3 linked regions of the Homo sapiens genome follow. The protein of the gene in region 2 purifies or fractionates together with the protein of the main gene of each other region. This does not show direct contact. Each region holds a gene or a part of one and is shown on either strand. Other genes may lie near its edges.

What was found. Proteins that work in one complex are often made in the same cells at the same time.
Region 1: the proteins of POLA1 (region 2) and LIG1 fractionate together in Homo sapiens (co-fractionation; 2 studies listed by BioGRID). This does not show direct contact.
Region 3: the proteins of POLA1 (region 2) and POLE fractionate together in Homo sapiens (co-fractionation; 2 studies listed by BioGRID). This does not show direct contact.

The regions. Positions count from the first base shown.
Region 1 is NC_000019.10:48,118,345-48,125,380, reverse strand, and holds part of LIG1 (DNA ligase 1), read left to right. Parts: intron 1-2,062; coding exon 2,063-2,207; intron 2,208-2,364; coding exon 2,365-2,447; intron 2,448-4,058; coding exon 4,059-4,211; exon of another isoform or gene 4,212-5,214; intron 5,215-6,190; coding exon 6,191-6,244; intron 6,245-7,036.
Region 2 is NC_000023.11:24,696,907-24,703,942, forward strand, and holds part of POLA1 (DNA polymerase alpha catalytic subunit), read left to right. Parts: intron 1-2,518; coding exon 2,519-2,643; intron 2,644-6,344; coding exon 6,345-6,441; intron 6,442-6,474; exon of another isoform or gene 6,475-7,036. UniProt on the Homo sapiens protein: Catalytic subunit of the DNA polymerase alpha complex (also known as the alpha DNA polymerase-primase complex) which plays an essential role in the initiation of DNA synthesis.
Region 3 is NC_000012.12:132,677,343-132,684,378, forward strand, and holds part of POLE (DNA polymerase epsilon catalytic subunit A), read right to left. Parts: intron 3,938-7,036; coding exon 3,796-3,937; intron 3,346-3,795; coding exon 3,265-3,345; intron 2,881-3,264; coding exon 2,836-2,880; intron 2,705-2,835; coding exon 2,612-2,704; intron 2,310-2,611; coding exon 2,155-2,309; intron 378-2,154; coding exon 236-377; intron 102-235; coding exon 21-101; intron 1-20. UniProt on the Homo sapiens protein: Catalytic component of the DNA polymerase epsilon complex. Participates in chromosomal DNA replication.

The sequences.
Region 1 (7,036 bases), on a different chromosome or scaffold from region 2:
TACTGTAGGAAGACAGTCAGAGTCTGATTTTTGTTTCCCGTGATGTCTGGGGAGAGGAAAGTCAAGTATCAGGTGCTTTCCAAACACTGGATACTTTGTGGGTTTTTCTGCAGGATTTGATCATCCCTGCTCAGCTGGTTCCTTTGTCTCCCATGAGCATTTCAAATATTTCTTCTCATTCCTTCAAATATTCCTTCTTTAAAATTTATTGATGGCCTATTTTGTTGTATAGGACTTGTTTGAGCTATTACTTTTACAAATTTTTTTATTAGTAGTAGTTGAACATGGATGAACTATTTTTATGTAGTCAAGTATATCATTTTTTTTCTGTTTAATGTGTCCTCATCCCCATGATTTTTTTTTTTTTTTTGAGACACAGTCTCTGTCGCCCAGGCTGGAGTGCAGTGGTGTGATCTTGGCTCACTGCAGCCTCCGCCTCTGGCGTTCAAGTGATTCTCCTGCGTCAGCCTCCCAAGTAGCTGGGATTACAGGCACCCACCACCACACCCAGCTAATTTGTGCATTTTTAGTAGAGTCGGGGTTTCACCATGTTGGCCAGGCTGATGTTGAACTCCTGACCTCAGGTGATCCACCCACCTCCGCTTTCCAAAGCGCTGAGATTACAGGCATGAGCCACTGCAGTAGCCTACATTTCTAATTTTAGAGCTTCTAGTAGCCATATTAAAAGGTAAGAAGAAACAGATAAAATCATATTTTCTTTAATCCAATGTCTAAGATATTATCCTTTCAATGTGTGATGAATATAAGAAATTATTAACATGGAATTTTACACTCTTTTCTTGGATTAAGTCTTCTAAAGCCAGTGACTGTTTTGCCCTTGGCACATCTCCGATTGAACTTGCTACATTTCAAGGGCTCAATTGCTACACATGGCTGGTGGCGGCTACACTGGGTAGCACGGGCTCAGCTGATCTTCCCAGACGTGCCCTGAGTAGGTATTGCTGCATTTTACAGATGGGAGCTCTGAGGTACACAGAGGGAAACGCTTGCCTGAAGTCACCAGCTAGGAAGCGTGTGGCTGGGATGTAAACCTGAAATGGTCTGACCCCAGATAAATTGTACCTGCTTAACCCTTGTGGCTCCTCTCTCTCATCTTTTCATACAAAATGTTCATGAGCACAATTTTACAACAGAAAAAAGCTGTCCATGGAAAACACGTGAATGTCCCCCTGGAGGGCAAGTGGTGAAGGTAGTTTAACATCATCACAGAGAAGCCCTGAGCAAAGGGCAGACCAGAAACACTGCGCGTGGGTGGGGACCGATCGAACAAAAGAGAAAAGCAATTCAAAGCCACAAGACGGATTAGTCAGTGTTGACATGTGGAGACAACTGCTTTGTCCTTTGTTTAAAAACACTCAGATCACCTCCTTCCTCTCTGACACACACTCTTGCAAGGTCCAGCTGGAACTGATTTCAAAGCAAAACACAAAACTGTAAATGTGCTGGAAAAACTCAGTGAAAACTTTTGGAATTCTAAGGAAAGGAGGACTTTTTTTTTTTTTTTTAATTATCTTGGGGATGAGGCTGGATGCAGTGGCTCACGCCTGTAATCCCAACACTTTGGGAGGCTGAGGTGGGTGGATCTCTTGTGATGTGCACCTGTAGTCCCAGCTACTCGGGAGGCCGACGCAAGACAGTCGCTTGAATTCAGGAGGCGGAGGCTGCAGTCAGCCAAGATCGCACCACCGCACTCCAGCCTGGGCGACAGAGCGAGATTCCGTCTCAAAAAAACAAAAACAAAAAACAAAACTGATGAGATGCCCGTAAAGTGTTAATTCAAGCTCCAGCAAGGCCGCAGCCCCCCGTCTGATGCTCCTGAAGTCACCGACTCTAAATGGTGTCGGGCCCTCTTGCCAGTGACTAGCCCCATGCTTTAAGCTCTCAGAATCCTTCTGACATCAGGGTTCTTCCCTCTCAAGGCTTTCCACGAACCCTGTCACTAGTTGTGACCCGCACATGTCCTGTTCGCCTCACATTTAGGGCTTATTGTCTTTATTCTCACAAAGATGTCTCATCTCTCTTCTCCCTGCCGGCCCTGCAGTCCCTGGTACGTGAGCCCCTTTCCCGGCGCCGGCAGCTGCTCCGGGAGAACTTTGTGGAGACAGAGGGCGAGTTTGTCTTCGCCACCTCCCTGGACACCAAGGACATCGAGCAGATCGCCGAGTTCCTGGAGCAGTCAGTGAAAGGTGAGGGTGCTCACTTTTCTCTCCTGAGGTCTGCAGCTTGCGCTGACCCCGGCCTCCCAGCCTGTCCCCAGTCCTGGACCGTTTGACCAGAATCCTGCCTGCTCCGGCGCTTGTGAGCCAGGGCTTCCCAAGGACCACGCTTCTGTGTCTCCCTCAGACTCCTGCGAGGGGCTGATGGTGAAGACCCTGGATGTTGATGCCACCTACGAGATCGCCAAGAGATCGCACAACTGGCTCAAGGTGATTCTCGACCCCCAACTGGGCCTTCTCCACCCCGGGTCTGGAGGTCTGTCCCAGCTAGGCAGTGGATTTCGAGCCTCCACTGTGTACCCTGTCTGAGCTCAGGGCCCCTTTTCACAATCCCACCCCAGCCCCCTGCTGCAACTGAGTTCAGACCTTCTCCCTGCTGCGAGCCCTTGCTCACGAGTTCTGATGGAGAACAGCCCCAGCCCAAGCACCGCACATCCCACGAGGTGCAGCGTGATGAGGTGTCTCTCTCCTGAGCCTGCCGCCCGTGTCGGGCCAGGCTCTTGGGCAGGAATTAAGCCAGGACATGAATAAGAGAAAGTCAGGCAGGAGTGGGCGCCATGAAGAAAAGCAAGTCAGCTCCGGGCCAGCAAGGCGGGGCTGGGAGTGCCCCGGATGATCAGGAAGAGTCTTTCCCAAAGTGAGGGACAGAGCACTAGGGAGGAAAACCCCCGGTGCAGAGACCCTGAGGGAGGAGCAGCCTCTGCGTGTGCAGGGAGCAAGGGCAGGCGAGGCGGGAGGTGAGCTCAGAGTGGGGAGCAGGCCCCAGATGAGGCAGCACCTGGGGCCACTGTGAGATAAAACTGGATCTTCCTCTTGAAGGTTTCAGGAAGTCAGTGGGGGTTCCGTGCCGGGAGTCACAGGTTGTCATTGTGCGAAGCTCCTGGGGTTTCCCCTCGAGTGGAGGACGGGTGTGTTGAGGGCCAGCGAGCAGGAGCCTGTCATCAGTAAGAGTTGATGGATGTTTGAGTGGAGAGGGGCAGTGAGGGGTGGACAAGGGGACTGGAGCGGGAGGCATTGTGGCACTGAGCCGGCCAGGCCTGCTGACTAGCTCTTCCTGTGTACTTATGTCTGTCTGTGGCTGGTTTCCCTCCAGCACAGACCTTTCCTGTCTCAGGAAATAGCACTGTTGTGCCCCCAGGGCTGAGCTTCTGCCTGGCACATGGTTAGCACTTAGTGAACGTTTCTGAACGAATGGGAAAATGCTCTCCCTTTGGAGGAGTGGCCAGAGTGAGTTGGCCACGTCTCTGTCCTGAGGGAAAGACGGCGGCAAGGCTGACTCCTGAGGTCCCATCGATCCCGCCTGCGTTTCCCATTTGTTCTTATTTATTTATTTATTTATTTTAAGACGGAGTTTCACTCTCATTGCCCAGGCTGGAGTGCAATGGCACGATCTTGGCTCACTGCAACCTCCGCCTCCCGGGTTCAAGCGATTCCCCTGCCTCAGCCTCCCAAGTAGCTGGGATTACAGGCACACGCCACCACGCCCGGCTAATTTTGTATTTTTAATAGAGACGGGGTTTCTCCATGTTGGTCAGACTGGTCTCGAACTCCCGACCTCAGGTGATCCACCCGCCTCGGCCTCCCAAAATGCTGGGATTACAGGCATGAGCCACCGTGCCCGGCCCCATTTGTTCTTATTTAAACCTAGAAACCCTTCCCATGTCCAGTCTCTTCCCAGGGGCCATCCTTGGGGTTCCTTCTGGAAGTTCCCTTCAGACTTACTTCTAGTCCCTCCTCAGTCCACTGAGGAGCCCCTCCCCAGCAGTGAGGGCCCCGCCTTGGGCGCTCCCCCTTCTCATCTCTTGCCTCCCCTTCTCCCAGCTGAAGAAGGACTACCTTGATGGCGTGGGTGACACCCTGGACCTGGTGGTGATCGGCGCCTACCTGGGCCGGGGGAAGCGGGCCGGCCGGTACGGGGGCTTCCTGCTGGCCTCCTACGACGAGGACAGTGAGGAGCTGCAGGCCATATGCAAGGTCCTGGGGAACTGGGGCTGATGGCAGAAGCAGGAGGGAAGGAGATTAGACTCCCGGGGGTATTTCCTATTGCACAACCCAGACCGAGGGGTGCTCACATCCCCCTGTGAAGGATCCGTTCTCCCCAGTTTTTATTTACTTTTTCTGGTTCTATGAGCAACTCTTGCTTCATATAGAAAAACAGGCTGGGATAGAAAGATGTCAGGAATGTGTGTCAGTGAGAGATTGAGATTAGCTACAAATAGTGGTGGCTCACATAAGAAAAGAATTTTTTTGTTATGAAATGAGAAGTGTGGAGGGGGCAGTCTGATGCCATTAGGGATTCAGGTTCCTCCTCTCCCCACATTTTTTTTTGTCCCCACATTTTTTTTTTCTGCCATGTGCCTCTGGCCTCATCATCACAATGTGGCTGCAGGAGTTCCAGCCCTCATGGCCATGCCTGCTCCACGCACCAGGGAAGAGCAAAGGGGGTTGGACCCTGAGTCAGCCTCAGCCAGTGAACACCTTCTGCTCAAGTTCTGTTGCTCATCACTTTGCTCCATGGCTCACCCCTAGCTGCAAGGAATTCTGGGAAATGTAAAGTGATTTACTTTTTTTCAAGTTAAAGTTTTTCTTAAAGCTGTGCACATTTTGGACTAGATTTTCTTACGTATTTCCTATATTCCCCTCTCCAACAAATTTGGGTCTTTTGCCACAGAAACAGAACAAAATATCACCTAGAATCGTACCACCCAGAGACACGCAGTAGTGACATTTGAGGGAATGTTTTATTTACATTTTTGCAAAGTTGTGATCCTTCTCTATGAGTAATTTTCTTTTCTGCCTTTTTACCCTGGAAGTACTTTGTTTTCAGTGTTGTATATGCCCTTAAGCAATATGGCAACAGGACCTGAATGCCCGCACAAGAGTTTTCAAGTGCTGTGCCCCATAGCACATAGTGCTGTGTCCTGAACCAGCTCCCCGTGGCTGTGTGGGGAAGTTGTTGCCGGCTTTGTTCTGATGGGTAATGTGATTACTTAGTGTCCGTTAACCTAAACGATCAGTGACAGAAGTGACTTTTATAAATCACAAATGTTTTGGCCACCAATCTACATTGTCACCATTTTGCATTATTTAGAATAGATTTTTAAATGAGCTATTGTCAGGACAAAAGGCAAAAAGAATCCTTAAGACTCTCAATGCAAAAGGGGCTTTCCAGGTGACGTTTATATTGGTGATTATTGCCCACTTGCTGCGTATCTGCCAGCATCCAGCATTACTGCTAATTTTTAGCCTTTCCTATTTTGGTAGGTGAAAGAAGCTCTTGGCAGTGTTAACATTGGAGATGGGCTGGGCATGGCCACTCACGCCTGTAATCCCAGCACTTTGGGAGGCTGAGGTGGGAGGATCACTTGAGCCCAGGAGTTCGGGACCAGCCTGGGCAACATAGTGAGACCCCACCTCTACAAAAACTTTTTTAAAAAATTAGCCAGGCGTGGTGGTGCATGCCTGTGGTCCCAGCTACTTGGGAGGCTGAGGCAGGAGGATTGCTTGAGCCCAGGAGGTGGAGGTTGCAGTGAGCCAAGATTGCACCACTGCACTCCAGCCTGGATAACAGAGCTACACCCTGTCTCAAAAAAAAAAAAAAAAAAAAAAAAAAAGACTGGAAGTGAGGACAGCCAGTTACTGGGCAGTGAGGATGTGGGTGAGCATAAGGGAGTGACTTCCTGGGGCCAGGGAGACAGTGGAAGCAGCAAGAGTTTCTCCATAAAGCAGAAGACAGGGAGTGGTTCACGGCAGGCCTGCTGGGAGAACATTCCCACCCGGGAGTCTCTGGATGGATGCTCCGCACCCCCAGCTCCCTACTTCCCTGGTTTTCTGTGGATACTGCGTAGACCAGAGTGGGGTGGGGGCCATGAGTGTACACAGCTTTAGATGGCAGGAGCAAGTGCTGGGCCTGTGGCTGGCTGAGCCTCTGACCTCCCGCTTCCTCCCTGCAGCTTGGAACTGGCTTCAGTGATGAGGAGCTGGAGGAGCATCACCAGAGCCTCAAGGTGAGCCATGGCGGCTGCGCCTCAGCCTCCACCCCTCTCCCCCCTGCCCCTGACAGCACAGTCCTTCCATGCAGGGCTCTTGGCTTCCACCATCTTGGGGCTCCAGGTGTGGGCAGGAGGGCAGCAGGCAGTGGAGCTGGCTTTGGAGTCCAGCATCTCCAGGTTCATGTCTCAGCACTGCCGGCTACTAGCTGGTGACCCTGCTCAAGCAGCCTCACCTCCCCAAGCCCTGTGCCTCATTCACACCAGGGGTTAGCCAAAGGACACAGCAGGTGCCATAGCTGCTCCTTGTGAAGTGCCTGTGAGCCCTGATCAATGTGAATGAATGTTGTCATGGTCACAGGCATTTCAGGCATGAGTGTCTGTCCTACATATTGGATCTGTATTAGTTTATTTTCATACTCATACTGCTATGAAGAAATAACCCAAGACTTGCCGGGCGTGGTGGCGCATGCCTGTGGTCCCAGCTACTTGGGAGGCTGAGGCAGAAGAATTGCTTGAACCCAGGATGCAGAGGTTGCAGTGAGCTGAAATCATGCCATTGCACTCCAGCCTGGGAAACAGAGTGAGACTCTGTCTCAAAAAAAAAAAAAAAAAAAAAAGGATCATTTATAAAGAGAGGTTTCCTGGACTCACAGTTCCACACGGCTGGGGAGGCCTCACAGTCATGGCAGAAGGCGAAAGAGGAGCAAAGGCACATCTTACATGGCGCCAGGCAAGAGAGCGTGTGCAGGGGAACTGCCCTTTATAAAGCCGTCAGATCTCGTGAGACTTCCTCACTATCACGAGAAC
Region 2 (7,036 bases):
GGCTCATGCCTCTTCTTTTGCTTGTGCCACTTTTTACTTTGTTCTCTGTGAAATTTGACTCCTTTTTCTAGGCCTGTATTGGAAACCTCTCCTGTGAAGCCTTCCTTGATTTTCCAGGCAAAATTAACAGCTCTCTCCTCTGTACATTTCCTCAGTACTGAGTTCTTACCTTTTCTATGGCACCATGTTTATATTGTGATGGTAATTTCAGGTACTTTGCTTTACTTGACTGGGGGCCTCTTTTGGACAGGCAGCTCTGTCTTATTTGTGATTGTACCCTAAACCCTGTGTAGTGGAACATTGTTGCCTGTGTAGTGGGACGTTGCCTGTGTAGTGGAACATTGTTGCCTGTGTAGTGGAACATTGTTGCCTATGGAGTAAGTGCATTTGAAGACCTACAGATGTCAGGCATCAAGGGAGTCTTGAGGGGAATCGCTTTTCACTTTCAGGGGTCATGTTCAGTAATCTTCAAAGCCTTTTCATGTAGGCCTGTTCACGATTTTTGAAATCATTTGAGTGACATCCAAGTTTTTGTGGCTGTCATCATTAAGTACCTTTATTCCTTAATTTTTACTTAATGTCTTTCTGAAAATGGATTTAAAAGTCAAATGTGAAAGTCAAACAATAGAGTGTGATATTATAAAGAGAGATTCCATTTCTAGAAAGCTAGAAAAAAATAAGATCTCTAATTATGCCTTACCTTTAGGCTATAGTTTCCAGCAGTTTATTGCCAGCATTTGGTACATGTTCTTTAAATTGTATCTTCTATTTCAGTCAAACACTTAGTCAAGCAGCTTAATGTTGTTATGAACATTCTAGTGGGGTTGGAGTTTTAGGCTGCCTCTTATCCATACTTCTTTTCTTTGCCTGCTCCTTTTTATAAATTAATTAGCACCAAACACAGTAAAATACTAGATTTCACAGACATAGATGGCAATCATGCTGAGCCTAAACTCGTAGTTGACAGGCAGCACTGTTATGCTTGACTTAGTTTTTCATCAGTGGGTATGTGAAAGTCTTTAATTCTGTGGATGAATTTTTTTTTTTTTTTTTGAGATAGAGTCTCGCTCTGTCACCCAGGCTGGAGTGCAGTGGTGCAATCTCGGCTCACTGCAACCTCCATCTCCTGGGTTTAAGGGATTCTCCTGCCTCAGCCTCCTAAGCAGTTGGGATTACAGGTGCCTGCCATCACACCCAGCTAATTTTTGTATTTTTAGTAGAGTTGGGGTTTCACCATGTTGGTCAGGCTGGTCTCAAACTCCTGACCTCAGGTGATCCACCCACCTCAGCCTCCCAAAGTGCTGGGATTACAGGCGTGAGCCACTGCATCCGCTTGAATTTTTTTCAGTGTGTGTGTGGAACGGTCAGTTTATGATGATCGGAGCATGAATAATTCAAAAGTTGAATGAATAAACGCTGAAGTCCTCTGATATTTCAGTAATTTTTGACAAACCATTTAAGTCCCTGTAGTTGTTTTAGTAATGTCCTGTGTCATAACCAACTGAGGCCTTGAAATAAGTGATATACCAATAATCCCCTCAGAGCCATCTTTGTTAAATTTCTCCAGCCCTCAATCTGTTCCTTCTTTGAATTTCCGGGTGCTTTGGCTGAATCTCTTTTAAGGCATTTATTATCTCTAAATATTGTTTAGAGCCAGTTGCTACTTGTCTCCCATGTTAGATAGTAAGTTCTGTGAGTACAGAGACCATGTCTTTTTTATCTTTTTTTGTTGTTGTTGTTTTTTGTTTTTGTTTTTTGTTTTTTGAGATGGAGTTTCTCTCTTTTTGCCCAGGCTGGAGTGCAATGGTGCGATCTCAGCTCGCTGCAGCCTCCGCCTCCCGGGTTCAAGTGTTTCTCCTGCCTCAGCCTCCCAAGTAGCTGGGGTTACAGGCATGCACCATCATGCCTGGCTAATTTTGTATTTTTAGTAGAGATGGGGTTTCACCATGTTGGCCAGGCTGGTCTCGAACTCCTGACCTCGGGTGATCTGCCTGCCTCAGCCTCCCAAAGTGCTGGGATTACAGGTGTGAGCCACCACGCCCAGCCTGTCTTTGTGTCTCATAGTGCCTAGTACTTTGCAAAGAGTAGATGCTCCTTGAAGCCTTTTAGATATTGATTGACAGATTGCAAAATGAATAGTGCTTTTATAACCCACTGGATTACTTCTGGCTGGTCATTTCTAATGGAAAGGTGATAAATTAGCTAACAGCTGATCTCCCTTGTTTAGTGTCTCCGCAGGATATCAGTTGAATTGGGAATTTTCCTCTTTTTAGAGAAAAAAATAACAGTGACTTTAATTGTTTTAACAGGATCTTGGAGGAACTTTCTGGCGAGTCATGTATATTTGGATATGTATGTTTGGCCATGAGCTTTGTGAATTATTTACATTATAAACATTATCTACTTGTATATTACTAAAATTGTATGTTATTGTTGGCTAGAAACTTTTCCTTTGTGTTTGAGGGAAGATGGCTGACAATTTTGTAACATCTGTTGTAAATTTTTTTTCTTTTTTCAGCTCTGTCAGATTCAGGGAGTTTTGTATCTTCTCGAGCCCGGCGAGAAAAAAAATCAAAGAAGGGGCGCCAAGAAGCCCTAGAAAGACTGAAAAAGGCTAAAGCTGGTGAGAAGTATAAATATGAAGTAAGTAACCATTTTTCTTCTTTATTCTTCCTGTGCATCATCTAATTCATAGCCTGCAGGTAGTCTTATGTCACCTTTGCCCCAGATTAGAAATACTCATATATTTTAAACTTTTTGTAATGGGAATTTATTAGTATTGGACAAGCATGGGTATGAGGTAGATTTACAGATCATGGAGAATGTTCGACCCTTAAAGTTCCTATAAGGTATTTTAAAGATGATTTTAAAATTCCAAAATGAAAGTACATAGTCATATCTATATTTTTCCTTATTGAGCATGCTGTATCTATGGTAAGTCCCATGGGTTTGTTGGGGTCATTTAGAGATGCTTTTACTTACTCTTAAGGTATTGAGCAGTCTAAGTGCTACTTCTTGGAGAGAACTGTTCTTCCTAATCTCATTTGCAAGGGTAGTGGCAGTGGAGACTTGGACCTTAACTTCTGCCGTGTTCTGCTTGTAAGATTGAATGTGATGCTCTTTTGGTTTTCCTCTACCCACTGTTTATGGCCTGCAGGTCAAAAACAGAGTGGCCACCATCTGCATAAATATTGTCTAGCATCACCTTCAGGGCTTCCTGAGTATCTTAATTGCCTTATGGCCAGAAAGTGATTAACCAATACTAGAAAATAACAACCATAACTGATAGACTTTTTGAACTAACATATTATTCTAAGTGTGTTTACCAATGTGTTTATTCATTTAATCTTTTCAATAACCAAATGAAATTAGATACTATGATTAATAACATTTTGCAGGTGAGATATCCGAGGCACAGAAAGTTTAGTGAGGTTACAATGGCAGATTCTTTTTTGAACCCAGACAGTCTGGCTTCAGAATATTTCTGTTTAACCAGTTAACCAAATAAAAGAATATTTGCCATTTGTCACCATTTGTTCAAGTTAAGTGAGGCAACCAGATCATAAAAGGTTGCTAAAAGGATTTCAGTAAAACAGGAATAAAGCATTTTTTTTGTTTTTGAGATGGAGTCTCTCTCTGTTGCCCAGGCCGGAGTGCAATGGCACGATCTTGGTTCACTGCAGCTTCCACCTCCCAGGTTCAAGCGATTCTCCTGCTTCAGCTTCCCGAGTAGCTGGGATTACAGGCGCCCACCACCACGCCTGGCTAATTTTTGTATTTTTAGTAGAGACGGGCTTTCACCATGTTGGTCAGGCTGGTCTTGAACTCTTGACTTCAAATGGTCCACCCGCCTCGGCCTCCCAAAGTGCTGGGATTACAGGCGTGAACCACCACACTGAGCCCAGGACTAAAACATTTTTAATGTAGGTACTTGTATAAAGGAGTTCCATGGGGCATTTCAGATGTTGGCACAATGTGGCTGATTTCCCTTTAACACTGTGATGTTAATTGTATGGCTCTAAGAGTTCATGCTGAGCAGTAGTAATGTTGTTTTTAAAGATTGAGTCGAAATGACTTTTTACTCAAAATGATTTTTAAAAATAGTTTTCTGGTATCTCCTTGATAATATAGTGAATCACTTAAGTAAGAGACAAAGTCTGTCTTCAACCAACAAAAATAATAACGCCAGTTCCCCTCCCACCCCCAAAAAAGAAAGTTGGTCAGTATAGTAATATTAATTGGACTATTTTGCATCTCTTTTGTTAAAAGCTTAATTTGGTAAGGCAGGTTGTTTCTGTTACTAGATGGTTAAAGACCAAATCAGTATTTGCCAGTGATTCCTGTAGAGTAGGCTAAAAAGGAGGTGAAAACTCAAATCCCGTAATTATTATAAGCCTTATAGGTGTGGCAGAAATCCAGTCAGCTCTGGCCACTGGATTCCAAAAGCTCTGTCCAAGTTTTTTCCTAGGGTATTAACTCTTCAGATGGAGTTGTTTCTCCCGTACTCCATTTGAGAAAGGTAGAACTCTTTTTTTTTTTTTTTTTTGAGGTGGAGTTTTGCTCTTGTTGCTCAGGCTGGAGTGCGATGGCATGATCTTGGCTCACTGCAACCTCAGCTTCCCAGGTTCAAGCGATTGTCCTGCTTCAGCCTCCCAAGTAGCTGGGATTACAGGTGTCTGCCACCACGCCTGGCTAATTTTTATAATTTTAGTAGAGACGGGGTTTCACCATGTCGGTCAGGCTGGCCTGGAACTCCTGACTTCAGGTGATCCACCTGCCTTGGCCTCCCAAAGTGCTGGGATTACAGGCGTGAGCCACCACACCCGGCTGAGGTAGAACTCTTGAGAGAATGGGAGAATTTTTTTTTTTTTTAATCTCGCTCTCTCTCCCAGGCTGGAGTGCAGTGGTGTGTTCTTGGCTCACTGCAACCTCCACCTCCCAGGTTCAAGCGATTCTCCTGCTTCAGCCTCCTGAGTAGCTGGGATTACAGGCGCCCCCCACCATGCCCAGCTAATTTTTGTATTTTTAGTAGAGATGGGGTTTCACCACGTTGGCCAGGCTGGTCTTGAACTCCTCACCTCAAGTAATCTGCTCACCTTGGCCTCCCAAAGTGCTGGGATTACAGGCGTGAGCCACTGCACCTGGCCGAGAATCAGGTACTTTTTTTTTTTTTGAGATGGAGACTCGGTCTCTTACCCAGGCTGGAGTGCAGTGCATGATCTCGGCTCACTGCATCACTGCAACCTCCACCTCCCGGGTTCAAGTGATTCTCCTGCCTCAGCCTCCTGAGTAGCTGGGACTGCAGGCATATGCCACCACGCCTGGCTAATTTTTGTATTTTTAGTAGAGATGGGGTTTCACTATGTTGGCCAGGCTGGCCTCAAACTCCTGACCTCAGGTGATCCACCCACCTGGGCCTCCCAAAGTGCTGGGATTACAGGCGTGAGCCACTGTGCCCAGCATTTGTTAATTTTTAATAAGTATCTATGAGATTTTGCAAACCAGCCCACCAGAGTCTCATCTGGAAAGTCACTGGCCTTTCCCCATGGGCAGCTGCAGCAGTGGTGTGTATCTTTCATTTGTTGCTTTAGCTGTGCAGAGGTTGTCTGCTTTACTCATACCAGTAGCTCATAGTGTTCTGACCCTCTTGCAGTCAGGCAGCCAATATGATTGGAGGACCTGCCACTCTCTGGACTTGCCTTTCAAATAGCTCAGCGTTTAAGTCCTTGTGTGGTTTCAAGACCTGAGGATGGTGGAGTTTCAGTGGTAATACAAACAGGGTCACTCAAAAACTATTTCTGGTTTGCCTGTAGAATATGCAATATGTTTGTTTTGCTAATTTTTGGAAGGGGATGGATGAGGGAGATTTTCCTTCTGAATTGTATTTGGTTGATTGAACAGGCATGAAAATTATCGTCTATTTGCAGAGCGTACATCAGCTAGTGGAGAGGGAAGTGGCATGCCTTACAGGTTTGCTAAGTGTAGGAGAAACCAGTCTAGAAATTACAAGTGAATAATTCCCCAAAGCAGCTAATGAAGAATTGGCTATAATTCAGTTTGTTTTTTATGAAATAGATGAGTAATTGATGGTATGACAAGTGTATTATGCTAATGGAATCATTTAATATCTTATGTTAACACCCACCTAAAAGGAATACTAAGTTAATTGATGTCTATTTAAGGAAAACCCTGTAGTGGTGTTGAATGTCAGAACTCATGATTTGGTTGCAGCTACTCCTTCAGTCTGCCATTCCAGTTTCAATTTGACAATTTTTTCATCAGAATTATTTAACACTTTGACTCCTCTATTTGAAGCTTTTTTCCTGAAACTTGTATAATGGTAGGTCGAGGACTTCACAGGTGTTTATGAAGAAGTTGATGAAGAACAGTATTCGAAGCTGGTTCAGGCACGCCAGGATGATGACTGGATTGTGGATGATGGTAGGTGGGGCGGAGGTGGGGGCGGGGATGTTGCTTCCTAGGCACTGTGTTAGTTGCTTCTTGTAGATTCTCACTCATGTGGTGGAGTTGCTGCTTTGCCTGGGCAAATGTAAGGCACTGTTAGGATCTTACCTTTGGTTTGGATTTTCCTTTAATTATTTGAGGATGAGGAAGCAGAATAGCAGGACATTTATTTGGGGATATTTTGGAGAATCTAGGCACATACCTCAGGATGTAGTATAAATCCTCCAGGTAATGGCTGTGTAAGAATTGGGAGGAGCCCCTTGTCTGTGGGGCCAATGCACAGCGCTTGGAATTAAGGAATGCAGGTTCGGGATCCATCATTCCTACTTTCCAATTCTATGACCTTGGACAAGTCACTTAATCTCTCTGCGCCTTAGAGTCTTCATCTGTAATATGGGGATGAGAAAACTACCTTCTCCCAGAGTTGTGAGGTGTATATGAGGTTCTAGGTATGAAAATTAACTTGGTCAGTAGAAAGCACCATACAAAGGCTGGTCCTAATGTCCTGTGCCCCTTCTGAAAGCTCATTGGTTCTCACTTGTAGGGTCTGACTTCATGGCCATGTGAATGC
Region 3 (7,036 bases), on a different chromosome or scaffold from region 2:
GTAACACAAGCAAAACTTACAGGTCGTTCAACAAGGTCATCTCGGCGGGTGATTTCTACCGGAAAAGCATTTCCTCGGTATCTGACATTGTACCAATGAGCCTGCAAAACACACAGTGTGCTAACTAGAGTTCTACATCCAGGAAAGTCTATTCTTCTGTGGATTCACCCATAATGATCATCTCCTGGCTGTTAGGAAATTCATGTGAGCAGCGACCCAACCCTGCCCCACTCACCACGTGGATCTTCAGGTCAATGGAGAGGCGGATGTGGTAGGGAACATCGTACTCGCGCATGTCCACAATGTTGTCCAACTGGTCAGCTATCTTCTTAGAGGTTTCCTCTTCATCAGTAATGACACCGCCCCTCTGCAGAACACTAGGAATTAACAAGAGAGCAACTAACTCAGCTGCCAGGGTCTGGAGGAGGTGAGACCAGAGTTCCAACTCAGTAGGAAGAGGTGAGACCAGAGTTCAAACCGAGGAAACACAAAAGGTAAATTGATGTGGTTTCAACGACCAAGGCAGTCCTTCCTTTAAGAATGGCTTGGACTGGGCCAGGCGTGGCAGCTCACGCCTGTAATCCCAGCACTTTGGGAGGCCAAGGAAGGCGGATCACCCGAGGTCAGGAGTTCGAGACGAGCCTGGCCAACACGACGAAACCTCATCTCTACTAAAAATACAAAAATTAGCCAGGCGTGGTGGCGCATGTCTGTAACCCCAGATACCTGGGAGGCTGAGGCAGGAGAATCACTTGAACCCAGGAGGCGGAGGTTGCAGTGAACCCAGATTGCGCCACTGCACTCCAGCCTGGGCAACAGAGCGAGACTCCATCTCAAAAAAATAAAGAATAGCTTGGATGATAACTCTACAGACAGGAGAAAATTCAGTGTAAGATGTATTCATTTTATATGATGTGAGTTACACCCCAACTAGAAAAAAAAAAAGAGGGCCAAGCATGGTGGCTTATGCCTCTAATCCCAGCACTCTGGGAGGCAGGAGGATCGCTTCGGCCCAGGAGTTCAAGACAGGCCTGGGCAACATAGGGAGACTCATCTCTACAAAAGTAATAATAATAATAATAATAATTAGCCAGGCATGGGGTACACACCTGTGATCCCAGTTACTCAGGAGGCTGAGGTGAAAGGATCGCTTGAGCCCAGGAGTTCGAGGCCACAGTGAGCTATGATTGCACCACTGCACTCCAGCCTGGGCAACAGAGCAAGACCCTGTCTCAAAACAAATAAGTAAATAGAAGAAAAAAGAAAGAAAACATTAAGTGCTGCCAGTCAGGAGAGCCAGGCATGACCATCCCACCATGGTCCTGATACTCAGGAGGCTGCCTCATGCAGGCTGAAGAGCAGGCCTGGGCTTCACACAGCCTGTGCATGGGTCTCTGCCATGTCTAAAGAAGTGGCCCACCATTGCGGCCACTATTGGCCTATAAGCTCAAATACTGAACGGGCTATTCAGGGGGAAAAAGACAGACGAGTCTCAGATATGGCTCAAGTCTCTGAGGACTCAGTCTCTGATCACACCTTCCAATATTTCAAAAAGCAACTTGTGGCATTGCCAGGGAAGGCGGACTCCGGGTAGGGACTGTAGAAATGTTCAGCATCCCAAACTGATCCTCTTTTGTCAGAGGGTAAGGTAGGTTCTTCCGAAGTCATCTAAACTTCATTACTCAAGATTTTCTCTTCCTAACTGGTTACTTTGCATCCTATTATTGTTGATGCTCAAATACTTGAAGAACAGTGTTTAGTGTTCTAGGCTTAAATTTCTGTGGACGATACCCAAGGTTCTCTGGAGATGTGCTGTGTAAATCTCAGCACTTAATGAAATTCATAGATGGATTGTGTTAGGGCAGTAGGATGAGGGATCTTTTCCCCTCTAAGGTGACTTTACTATTACAACCACTCAATTTTAGAGCCATAAACCCACCCCTCCATTGGAAAAGAGAGCTAACACATAAAATATAACCTGGGAAGCCACTGTTTATTTAACACAGAACATACAGAAATCTCTACCTAATTGCTCAAGTTTTCCGTATCAAACAGAGCCAGCCATTAAGGTAACTTTGTTGCTACGTGTTCCTGTCTCCTATCCATCTTGTCGTTCTGAACCGCTGATGCTTTGCTCACAAGACCAAAGTTTACCTGGAAAGCAGAGCTGTGTACGCGTCGCTGGCGTGATCCTGCTCCCTGTTCTTCTTCACGGCAGGGGAGATCTCCTTCCTCACTTTGACAAGATCCTCCACAGTGTGGAAGGACAGCCTGATGTAATTTCGCTTCAAACCCACCAAGTGATTTGGCTATAATGCGAAGAGATCACGCTCATTGGTTCAAGAGAAATAGGACTTTATGGGTGAGAGGGTAAACACTCAAAGGTAAACACACAAGTCAAAGAGTTGGCGACTTCAAGGCACCTTGTCCAACTCTGCACGTGGCACCAACTAACACCACTAGAGCTCTTTGGAAGGAATTTTATAGACGGTCACCACACCGCCCCATCACCCAACAGATGACCTGAATTTCTACCTCTTCCGATCCCACCTGCCAGGAACAATGTAGACTCTGGCCTCATTTACCCCTGGAAAGTCTGGGTGATACTCACCAAGTCCAGATCCTCTTTGGGGACAGTCTCCACTTTTGCAATTTTGCCCTGAAACTTCTTGGAGAGAAAAGATGAAACTTCTCGCTCACAACCCTAATCAGGATCAGAATGAAAAGGCTTTCCATTGGTAAAATACATTTCCTTCCTTGCCTATTTCCCAGTTGCAAAGCCCACCACAGAATGACACACAGGTCGTCTGACCTGAGTCTATGAAACACACTCACCTTTCTGGTCGCAATGTAGAAATACGGTTTATAGGGCAAAGCCACCTGTTAAGAGTCACCAACCCATCCAGGGGTGATGAGAAAGAAGAAAGCGAGAGAAAAGTGAAAACACATTGCTTGCTCCTATATCCCATGAACAGCCTAGGGCCAGGGTAGCCTTGACCTTGGTAGCATACAGGAAGTCAGAATGCGCACTTTTCACAGGGGCAAGAATCTGAAAGACACGCTACTTCTCACCATTCAGAGTCTTCCTGAACTGACCTCTCTCAGGACATCTTACGTGATGACTGATGGGGCCTCCAGGGGCCCGAGTTCTGCTGGGCTATGGGCTGCTGTGCACTGGAAGCCTCCCATGCCCTCCCTGACAGTCACAGAGCTACATGAACACCCATAAAAGTGGGTTTTAGCTTGTCGCAGTCAGGGGCTTACCTTAAATCTGCTTCCGTCATCTTGAATAAAGTAGTAATCCACTGCACTGCCTAAGCGCTTATCTTCATCTAAAATCTCGGTCTACAAGAGAATCAGTCAACACAGACACAAGACCATCCTCTACACAGTTAGAGAAACTTTCCTCCTACCTTTCGGGAAACTCAGCACTTTAGAAACAAACCCTCTCATCTAGGTCTTTACTCCACCCCTACATTAACACTACCAGCCTTATTCACAAGAACCACACTGTAACGGCCTCCAAATGGGGATCTCTCTCAATTTCTCCCTCATAATCCTTGAAAGCTTTATTCTGATGGCTAAAAGAGATGCCCATCACCTCCGGCTTCTCACAGTGGCCTCTCTGTGGCCCTCAATGACGTTAAAGAGGAAAGGAGAGCTGGGAACCTTCACATCTCCCACCTGATTCACTCAAAGTTCCCTCATGTGTCCCCCACTCTTTAGATAAGGACCACGCTATGACCAGAAGGGTTGCAGCCATATTCCTGGGTGGGAGAAGGACCTAGTGCTTACAGGATGCATGTTAATGAGCCAGCCTGTCTTCTCACCAGGCTCCTTCAGCCGCTCAAAACCAAACCGCAAATCCATCTTATCCGTCCACTGACTCCGTTCCAGGCGCTTGAGTGCCGAAACTGAGGAAGTGGCGCCATCATCCCTGAGTGAAAGAAGGGAACCCCGTGCTTAATTTGTAATGCCACCTGCTGCTGCTTCTTTTTTTCTTTTTTTTCTTTTTTTTTGAGACGGAGTCTTGCTCTGTCGCCTAGGCTGGAGTGCAGTGGTGTGATCTCGGCTCACTGCAAGCTCCGCCTCCCGGGTTCACGCCATTCTCCTGCCTCAGCCTCCCGAGTAGCTGGGACCACAGGCGACAGCCACCACGCCTGGCTAATTTTTTGTATTTTTAGTAGAGACGGGGTTTCACCGTGTTAGCCAGGATGGTCTCGATCTCCTGACCTTGTGATCCGACTGCCACCTACTTCTGCAACCCTCATCCCACCTAGTGTTAAGTGTTTCGGATATGACAGGGTATATATATTCCTGAAAAACCCCGAGCTTGGAAAAAGGCTCATTAAGATAAAAGGACTCATTGGAAAAACACAATTAGGGCAGGCCCTTCAAAACCTGTTCAACTTTATAACCAGAATACTAACAAAAAGAGTCATGATGGCTAGACACTGTTGCCTCTTGGGACACTAAAAATGCATAAAACTAGCCAGACGCGGTGGCTCATGAGAGTGCATGTAACACTGACATGATTTGAATAAAACAGACGGATTGTCAGGCCAGGCACAGTGGCTCACGCCTGTAATCCCAAAACTTTGGGAGGCCAAGGCGGGTGGATCACCTGAGGTCAGGAGTTTGAGACCAGCCTGGCCAGCATGGTGAAACCCTGTCTCTACTAAAAATACAAAAAATTAAATCCCAGCACCGTGGGAGGCCGAGGCGGGCGGATCACGAGGTGAGGAGATCTAGACCATCCTGCTAATACAGTGAAACCCCGTCTTTACTAAAAATACAAAAACTTAGCCAGGCGTGGTGGTGGGTGCCTATAGTCCCAGCTACTCAGGAGGCTGAGGCAGGAGAATGGCGTGAACCCAGGAGGTGGAGCTTGCAGTGAGCCGAGAACGCGCCACCACACTCCAGCCTGGGCAGCAGAGCGAGACTCCGGCAAAAAAAAAAAAATAAATAAAAATAAATAAATAAATAAATAAATTAGCTGGGTGTGGTGGGGTGGGCCTATAATCCCAGCTACTCAGGAGGCTGAGGCAGGAGAATCACTTGAACCCTAGAGGTGGAGGTTGCAGTGAGCCAAGATTGCGCCACTGCACTCCAGCCTGGGTGACAAGAGTGAAACTTCGTCTCAAAAAAATAAATAAAATAAAATAAGATAAAATAAATTAGATGGGTCGTCTCAATGTCAATTTCTTAGTTGTGACAATTGTACTCTACTTACACAAGATGTTATGGTGAAGTGATACGGGAATCTCTGTATCATTTCTGACAAATGCATGAGAATCAATCTACAATTACCTCAAAAAAAGGTTGAGGGCCAGGCGCAGTGGCTCACAACTGTAATCCCAGCACTTTGGGAGGCCAAGGAGGGTGGATGACTTGAGGCCAGGAGTTTGAGACCATCCTGGCTAACATGGTGAAACCCCGTCTCTACTAAAAATACGAAAAATTAGCCGGGCGTGGTGGCGGGCGCCTGTAGTCCCAGCTACTCGGGAGGCTGAGGCAGGAGAATGGCGTGAATCCAGGAGGCAGAGCTTGCAGTGAGCTGGGATCATGCCACTGCACTCCAGCCTGGGCGACAGAGCGAGACTCCGTCTAAAAAAAAAATAAAATAAAAAAAGAACAAGATAAAAAAAGAAAGGAAGACCCTTCCTTTGTCTGAAGGTATTCCTTGGATCACCTTCAACTCAAGAGCAGAATGACCATATTCCAAGACTAGGATCCTTACTTCTCATGAAAGATTATAACCACTTGTGGTAGGCAGGCAGGATGACACCCCCCATGAAAGACCCACATCCTAATCCCCCAAACCTGTGAATGTTATCTTACAAGACAAAAGGGTCTTTGCAGATCTGACTAAATTAAGGGCCTTGAGATTCTGCTTAGCTGGGTGGGCGCAGTGTAATCACAAGAATCCTTGTAGAGTGAGGCAGGAGAGCTAGAGTCAGGAAGGAGAAAGGGATGGGAGAGAGAGGGTAGGGGGGAGAGGAGATGCAACCCTTGGTTCTGAAGATGAAGAAGCAGCAAGGAAACAGATTCTCCCCCGGGAACCATCACAATAAATATAACCAACCAGACACTTTCATATTACGACTTCTGACTTCTAAAACCGTAAGAGAATAAATTTATATAGTCACTAAGTGATCATGTGTTACTGCAGCAATAGGAAACTGATACACCACCATACTGTATAATAAAGGTTTAATCTTTTAAATAGTTGAATGCACCCGTAATCAAAAACACAGAAAAACTATATTCCAAATCTTGCTAGAGAACAGCCTCAGTTCTGAGTCCCAGATCTTTATCAAAATCAAGAGTGAATGAAGTGCTATTTACGAGGCATCACCTCTTAACAGGGGCGCACGGCCCTCTATGCCAGTCCTCCAAATATCCTTGCCTCAAGTAAGTTGGATTAAGTAGACTAGAAAACTGCTCACTGGGACCATATTTCCTCCCAAAACTGCTTTCTCTGAGCTGTGTATCTCACTTTTAATCCAGGGACAGTAAGAAATCTGAAAAATGGGGATAAGTGTCACACAGGGAGCTACCATCGACTGGTTACTATATCACACCGTCCCAGTACTCCACACAGGCTCTCATTCACAGAGAGCTACCATTGACTGGTTACTATATCACACCGTCCCAGTACTCCACACAGGCTCTCATTCACAGAGAGCTACCATTGACTGGTTACTGTATCACACCGTCCCAGTACTCCACACAGGCTCTCATTCACAGAGAGCTACCACTGACTGGTTACTGTATCACACCGTCCCAGTACTCCACACAGGCTCTCATTCACAGAGAGCTACCATTGACTGGTTACTGTATCACACCGTCCCAGTACTCCACACAGGCTCTCATTCACAGAGAGCTACCATTGACTGGTTACTGTATCACACCGTCCCAGTACTCCACACAGGCTCTCATTCACAGAGCTACCATTGACTGGTTACTATATCACACCGTCCCAGTACTCCACACAGGCTCTCATTCACAGAGAGCTACCATTGACTGGTTACTG